2 linked regions of the Homo sapiens genome follow. The protein of the gene in region 1 purifies or fractionates together with the protein of each later gene. This does not show direct contact. Each region holds a gene or a part of one and is shown on either strand. Other genes may lie near its edges.

Region 1 (3,646 bases):
TCATTCACTGCCCCGGGCCTGTTTTCCCATCTGTGAAATGGGCCGTGTGCAGTCTGTGCAACCTGGTGGGGCTGGAGCCTGCATCCTCCCCAGCCCCTCCATGCTCTCATTTCTTCATTCCTTTTTTCTTTTTCTTTTTTTTTGAGACCGAGTTTCACTCTCATTGCCCGGGCTGGAGTCCGATGGCACAATCTCGGCTCACTGCAACCTCCGCCTCCTGGGTTCAAGCAATTCTCCTGCCTCAGCCTCCCAAGTAGCTGGGATTACAGGCACGCGCCACCACGCCTGGCTAATTTTGTATTTTTAGTAGAGACAGGGTTTCTCTATGTTGGTCAGGCTGGTCTCGAACTCCCGACCTCGGGTGATCTGCCTACCTCGACCTCCCAGAGTGCTGGGATTACAGGCGTGAGCCGTTGCACCTGGCATCATTTCTTTCTTTATACCCTGCCTTTACCTGACAAGGACTTTCAGTGACTCAAAATAGGTGGAAAGTCCTAATATGGGATGATAGGAGCTGGCCCTCTGTGAGCACACACGATTCCCAGCACTGCCGAGAGCACCTCCCCTGTATTAACTCATGAAGCCTTCACTGTGACTCTCTGGGGTGGGGCCCGCCATTATCCCCAATCTACAGATGACGAAACTGAGGCATGGAGAGATTAAGTGGCTTGCCTGGAGTCACACAGAGCTAGAAGCAATCCTGAGACCCAAACCCCTGGCCTGGATGGAGACACTCCCTCCTGGCTTCAGGGCTGGGAGACTGGCTTCAGATCCTCCACCTTTCCCAGCTGTTCTTGGGGCAAGTTACTCTGTGTCTCTGAGTCTCAGTCCCTTACTTGTAAAGAGGGAAGCTGATAGTGCCCACCTCATAGGGCTCTGCAGGGGCCTTGCCCATGGATGGCATCCCAGACACAGGCCCTGGTTATCACCCCTACAGGCGCTTTGCTCTGTCCACCAAGATTCCTGACACCAAAGGCTGCTTGCAGTGTCGTGTGGGTAAGAAATGGGCTGGGCGGGGTGGGGCGGGGCCTGGTGGGGGGCAGCGCAGGCCCAGCCCGGTGCCCACTGCCTGCTCCCCTGCCAGTGCGGAACCCCTACACGGGTGCCACCTTCCTGCTGGCCGCCCTGCCCACCAGCCTGCTCCTGCTGCAGTGGTATGAGCCGCTGCAGAAGTTTCTGCTGCTGAAGGTGAGGGGCGGTGGGGGGAGGCCCAGGGCACCCTCAGAGCTCTGGGGGGAGAAATGGAGACCTGAGCATCCCTGCTGCCCCCTAGAACTTCTCCAGCCCTCTGCCCAGCCCAGCTGGGATGCTGGAGCCGCTGGTGCTGGATGGGAAGGAGCTGCCGCAGGTGTGTGTTGGGGCCGAGGGGCCTGAGGGGCCCGGCTGCCGCGTCCTGTTCCATGTCCTGCCCCTGGAGGCTGGCCTGACGCCCGACATCCTCATCCCACCTGGTGAGCAGAAGGGCCAGGCTGCTGGGGGTGGGTGTGTGTGCATGAGAGACCGAGGGAGGGAGGCAGGGAGGGCCAAGGCTCCCAAACTAGGCTCCCCACAGCCAGTGGCTCCACAGAGACCTTGAGGGCTGCCATGTGGGGTCTGGGGCCCACAGCCTCCCTTCAACAAGCTTCACCTGGGCTTCCATAAAAGGGTTCATTAGACGGAAGGGCTTGGCAGCTAAGAAAATCCTGGCCAGGCCGGGCACAGTGGCTCACGCCTGTAATCCCAGCATTTTGGGAGGCCAAGGAGAGAGAGGGGCTTGAGCTCATGAGTTTGAGACCAGCCTGGACAACATGGCGAGACCCTGACTCTACAAAAAATTAGCTGGGCATGTTGATGCACGTGTGTAGTCCCAGCTACTTGGGCTGAGGTGGGAGGATCACTTGAGCCTGGGAGACAGAGGCAGTTGTGAGCCATGTTCGCGCCACTGCACTCCAGCCTGGGTGACAGAGTGAGACCCTATCTCAAAACAAAAAACAAAAACAAAAACAAAAACTGGTCAACATTGCTCCGGGCTGCAGGGAAGAGGCAGATCTGGCAAGGCAGGGCCTAGAGGCCCCATTCTCAGCCAGGAAGCAGGACTCCAGGTGTTGTGGCAGCTTGGGGTGATAATGAGCAGTGATGGGTAAGGGAGAAAGGAGGGCGCACGTAGTTAAGGCACCTGGTGCCAGGCCCTGAGCCAGGGGTCTCACACACAGGATTTTATTCTTTATTTATTTTTTTATTTTTTGAGACAGAGTCTTGCTCTGTTGCCCAGGCTGGAGTGCAATGGCACGATCTCGGCTCACTGCAACCTCTGCCTCGTGGGTTCAAGCTATTCTCTTGCCTCAGCCTCCCGAGTAGCTGGGATTACAAGCATGTGCCACCACGTCCGGCTACGTTTTGTATTATTAGTAGAAATGGGGTTTCGCCATGTTGGCCAGGCTGGTCTCCAACACCTGATCTCAGGTGATCCACCCGCTTCGGCCTCCCACAGTGCTGGGATTACAGGTGTGAGCCACTGCGCCCAGCCCAGGATTTTATTCCTGATCCTCATGATAGCCTCTCAAGGCAGTGCCATCTTGTCTGTGTTATGAGGAAACAGAGGCTCCGAGAGGTAAAGTGATTTGTACCAGGTCACACAGTGACTGGGTCACGAGGCCTGGTCCCCTTAAACCTGGAGCCCTCCCGTGGCTCCCCGTGACTCCTCCTCCACTCCCCATGAGCCCTAGGACGGGTCACTCATCCTCTCAGAGCCTCAGTTCCCAGCCCTGGAGGGAGATGAGGTTTCCCAGCCCCACAGGGCTGTTGTGAGGCTGACGTGCCCTCATGGCCAAGGGCTGTCTGTAGCCTGGCCCCCGTATCCTCTTGGGGTTGGGGGACTGGTGGCTCAGCCAGGCCATGTCTCTCTTCTCTGCCTGCAGAGGGGATCCCAGGCTCGGCCCAGCAGGTGATCCAGGTGGACAGGGACACAATCCTAGTCAGCTTTGAACGTGAGTGCCCTGGGGGCAGGGCTTAGGGCAGGGGACTATGGAGGTAAGGCGACCACGTGGGTCTGCCTTCCCAGAAGGGAGCCTCCCCGTCCCCACTCACCAATTCCTTCCCTGTGCAGGCTGTGTGAGGATTGTCAACATGCAGGGCGAGCCCACGGCCACACTGGCACCTGAGCTGACCTTTGATTTCCCCATCGAGACTGTGGGTGAGTGAGCCAGAGGTGGGGTGCAGGCCTTTCCCTGGCCTGGAGCACGTTGTTGCTCAGGGGCCTGGGGCTGGCGGTAGGATGAGGAGGCAGATCCCCTAGCCCCTCTCCTGAGCCATCCTGGTCACCTGAGGTCAGTGAGGACCCCTGTGGCCCAGACCCAGGCTCAGGCGTGGCTGAGGGGGTGCCAAGATGGGTGCAGGGCTGATGGTGGCCTGGCCCCCATAGTGTGCCTGCAGGACAGTGTGCTGGCCTTCTGGAGCCATGGGATGCAAGGCCGAAGCCTGGATACCAATGAGGTGAGTGGGGCCCAGGGACCTTGCTGTCCCCTGCCTTGTGGTCCCTACCTCTTTGGAAAGGACCTACTGGAGTGGCCTCAGTGCTTCCCACCTGTCTTCCCAGGTGACCCAGGAGATCACAGATGAAACAAGGATCTTCCGAGTGCTTGGGGCCCACAGGTAGGCGGTGGTACCC
Region 2 (3,646 bases), on another chromosome or scaffold:
TCTGCCTGGTCTCCCTTCAGTGGAGAAATCGAACCTTGTTCTCTACTGTTTTCTTCCTGAGTCCCCATGGAAAGGCTCTCGGCAGAGTGGGCAGCAGAAGTGATGTGAGGCTCCTAAGGTTTGAGGTCGCAGGCCGTGCTTGCCATGTGAAATAGAGACTTGGCCCTAGGATGAGCTGGATTTAACGCCCCTGAGTGTCCGGCAGGCTTCCTGCAAATACCTCTGTACATCAGTTTGCGAAGGAGGCATGTATTTGGGTTTTTTTTTTAGTGTTTTGCAAAAGCTATTTTAAAGGGAAGTCAAAGGATAAAAATGAGCCTGGGCTTAGCAAGTGAGCGGCTGTGGGCAGGTTTGGGGTTGCCCGCATTGCCACTTGCCGATGAGGGAGGGGAGTGTGGGGAGACTCTGTTCGTGTGGAGGTCACAGGTGACATAAGGGCTAACTGAATGATTTTCTTTCGTTTCGTGCTGTCATTGGACAGCCTTGGAAAGCTAGGTGCAGACTTACACACTAATTCTTTTTTCCTTTCTCTGTCTCTGCAGAAACTTGAAGGGTCAAAGTGCAAAGGGCAGCTTTTGATTTTTGGGGCAACCAACTGGGACTTGATTGGTCGAAAAGAAGTGCCTAAACAGCAAGGTATGAGAATGGTGCCTCAAAAACCCATTGAGTGCTTCTTAAGTGCTAGGTTCTGTTGACCACCTGCCTGGTAGGTATTCCCTTCATTTACAAATGCATTTTCACAGAGGCCAAGTGACTTGCCTGAGGCCACACAGCCACTGTAGTGATGAGCTGGATTTGAACCCTAATCTTAGTCTTTTAAAGGCACAATTTTGAAGTGACTCACTAATTCCGTTAAGATTAATCAGGAAAATACAAGTAGTATCCTCAAATGAACATTGCCACCTTTTCCATCTTCCCTCTCACCTCACTTGTTTTCATTAAAATGAAGAGACCAGGTCTGTGAGATGGTGTCAGAATGTCCTAGACATTTGTCAAATGTCAGGTGTCAAAATTTCAGGCATTGCAGAAGAGTCCACGTTTCTTTGCAAGCTGCCAAATTGTTGCAGGAACTGGTTTGACAGAACAGTCTGGAGCGGGGGAAAGCAGAGAGGTCCTTAAGAAGTAATGTTTTGTCCCCAGTTACCTTTGGAAAACTGGTGTCTTAAGGGAAAAGGCCCATCCAGGAGAAGGAAGGCTGGCATGTAGCCAACTTTTATGGCTTCTTGATTTCATCTGGAAAGACTCCCAAAGTGCTTTCCAGCATTGCTTTGCCCCATGAACAAATATTTGCACGCTGGCTCGTCTTGGCACCTTAAAACAGGGGCGTTGGAAATCACCTTGTTCCATGAAAACACCTGGGGGCCAGCTGAATTAGAAATGGGTTTAAGTTGCAGGTAGCAGCAGCGCGTTGTTTGGAAAATGCCCAGCCTTCAGGCCCAAGCCAGAGGGGGCCACGTCCACATGGTGGCTTTTGTCCCAGGGAAGCACCTCCTGGTCTACAGTAACGTAAGCCCAGGTGCTGATGGCGCCTTGTTGCCAGTCCTGTGCCCGTGTTGCATCATTTCTCAAAGCCGTTCTTCAACTGAGCAGCCCAGTTGACATTGAAGATACAGAAGCCCAGGGAAGGGCAGTAAATACCAAAGGAAGCGAGTGGCAGGGCCAGGGTTGGAGTCCCACTCTCTAGTTAACTCTGTTGCCTCCCGCGCATGTATGTTGCTGTAGATCTGGTGAAAACCAGCAGCCTGGATGTCTTGGTTTTTGCAAGATAGCACCACAGCAAGCCACACAGTAGCTCTGTGATTGGGACCAGACCCCAGGGATCCGGAGGCCGTGGGAATTGACTTCTCAGTCTGACCGCAGAGCCTGGGACTGCTGCAGGGCGTTTAATTTGACTTGCTCCCCCTCCCCCACCCCTGCCCGGTCCCTCCAGTCCCTCCAGCCCTTCCTTGGGAGGCCGGAAGAAACCCAACCCGGCTCCTCAGGAGCCAGTGGCATCCTGGGCACTGCAGGGAAAGATGCTTTGGTAAGTCCAGGAGCATCTGACCACCTGAGACTCCCCTTGGCCAAGCAAGTTCAAGTGTGGCACCGCACCCTTGCCTGGCGTCCCGTGGCCTCCTGTGTTGCGGCACAGGGTCGTGATGATACTCGTCAATCATGCCATCATTTTGTCTTCATGGCAAAGAGACCTTGGGTTTCTCTTTATCCCTTCCGAGTTTTGTTTAATACAGTTCCTGAATCTTAATTTAGGTGCCACCTCCTTGAGTTTTTCTTAAGTTTTAATATAGACCATGAGGCTTTTATTTTTGGTTTGCTCTTTCCCCAGGAAATTGTTGATGTTCCTCTTCCTCCTTTCAGGGGAGGTGTCTGCAGGTGTGCTGCTTCAGGTGCCATGCGGGATCGGCTGGCCCCTGCCCGCCTGCGGCCAGGAGTCTTGCCCACTTGCCCCCACACCTGAATGAGGGAGCATGTGGTGCCCTCTGCTGAGGGCGGAGGGTGGGGCTGGAACGTACTTCACAGATACTTTCTAGGCAGCCAGGCGCTTGATAGAGACATTGTAGCCTTTTTATCAGTTCCTACATTGGATCAGTCTTACACACTCGATTTGGCAGTGGCTAGCATTTCAGGATAATCACCACAATCCTGGAAATACTCTTGAGCATCTCAATTTCAAAAATTAAGATTGCTGGGCATGGTGGCTCACGCCTGTAATCCCAGCAGTTTGGAAGGCTGAGTCGAGTGGATCACTTGAGCTCAGGAGTTAAAGACCAGCCTGGCCAATATGGTGAAACCCTCTCTACTAAATATACAAAAATTAGCTGGGTGTGATGGCACACGCCTGTAATCCCAGTTACTCGTGAGGCTGAGGCAGGAGAATCAATTGAACCTGGGAGGCAGAGGTTGCAGTGAACCGAGATTGTGCCACTGCTCTCCAGCCTGGGCAACAGTGAAACTGTCTCAAAAAAAAAAAAAAAAAAAAAAAAAGAAAAGTAAGAAATTGGCCCTGCCCCATCCTCTAATAGGGTGTGAAGGGGGGTTTGTGAGGAAGATGCTGTGGTTTTCTTTCCCATTGAGTGCTCGCTGCGTGCCAGGCATTTGTGAGGGTCTAGGCTGGAGGGAGCCTACAGCTTTAGCCCTGGGTGGCTTCTCATGGAGTGGGAGGGCTGGGGGGCTCAGGAAGAGAGCTGTGGTGGGCTGAGCAGGGCTGAGCAGAGCTGGGGCAGGGGAGCCCTGGGGGAAGGAGATTTCTCAGTGGATGTTGCCCTGGAGGGCTTCCCCAAGGAGGCGAACTGGTGCTTGACTTGAGCTTTCAGGAAGAAGTAGGAGGTGGGAAGGACATTCTAGGGGAAGCGAATATATGGGTGGGTGTCAGGGGAGTCATGAAGTGGCTGTCACACTGGACGGGTGAGAAGGGAGCAGGAGGTGGGGTGATACTGTGTGAGCAGTGCCCCTCCTCAAGGGGCCTGATGGAGCTGCTGGGAACATGAAGACAGGACACTCGGGTCACCCCTCAGAAAGAGCCTTCTGGCCCAGGGTGAAGGCCGGAGATGGAGGGCAGGAGAGCCTGGGAAAGGAGGGGCAGGCGGCAGGGAGTGAGGAGGAGGGGTAGGTTACTGTCAGGGTGAGCGGGGTTTCCTGGGTCAGCCTC

What was found. The genes of interacting proteins can lie anywhere in the genome.
Region 2: the proteins of MAP4K2 (region 1) and RCC2 purify together in Homo sapiens (affinity purification with mass spectrometry, with the first as the bait; one study listed by BioGRID). This does not show direct contact.

Annotation. Positions count from the first base shown.
Region 1 is NC_000011.10:64,789,714-64,793,359, reverse strand, and holds part of MAP4K2 (mitogen-activated protein kinase kinase kinase kinase 2), read left to right. Parts: intron 1-937; coding exon 938-996; intron 997-1,084; coding exon 1,085-1,188; intron 1,189-1,273; coding exon 1,274-1,451; intron 1,452-2,897; coding exon 2,898-2,966; intron 2,967-3,085; coding exon 3,086-3,172; intron 3,173-3,400; coding exon 3,401-3,471; intron 3,472-3,574; coding exon 3,575-3,630; intron 3,631-3,646. UniProt on the Homo sapiens protein: Serine/threonine-protein kinase which acts as an essential component of the MAP kinase signal transduction pathway.
Region 2 is NC_000001.11:17,426,096-17,429,741, reverse strand, and holds part of RCC2 (protein RCC2), read left to right. Parts: intron 1-542; coding exon 543-636; intron 637-3,646. UniProt on the Homo sapiens protein: Multifunctional protein that may affect its functions by regulating the activity of small GTPases, such as RAC1 and RALA. Required for normal progress through the cell cycle, both during interphase and during mitosis.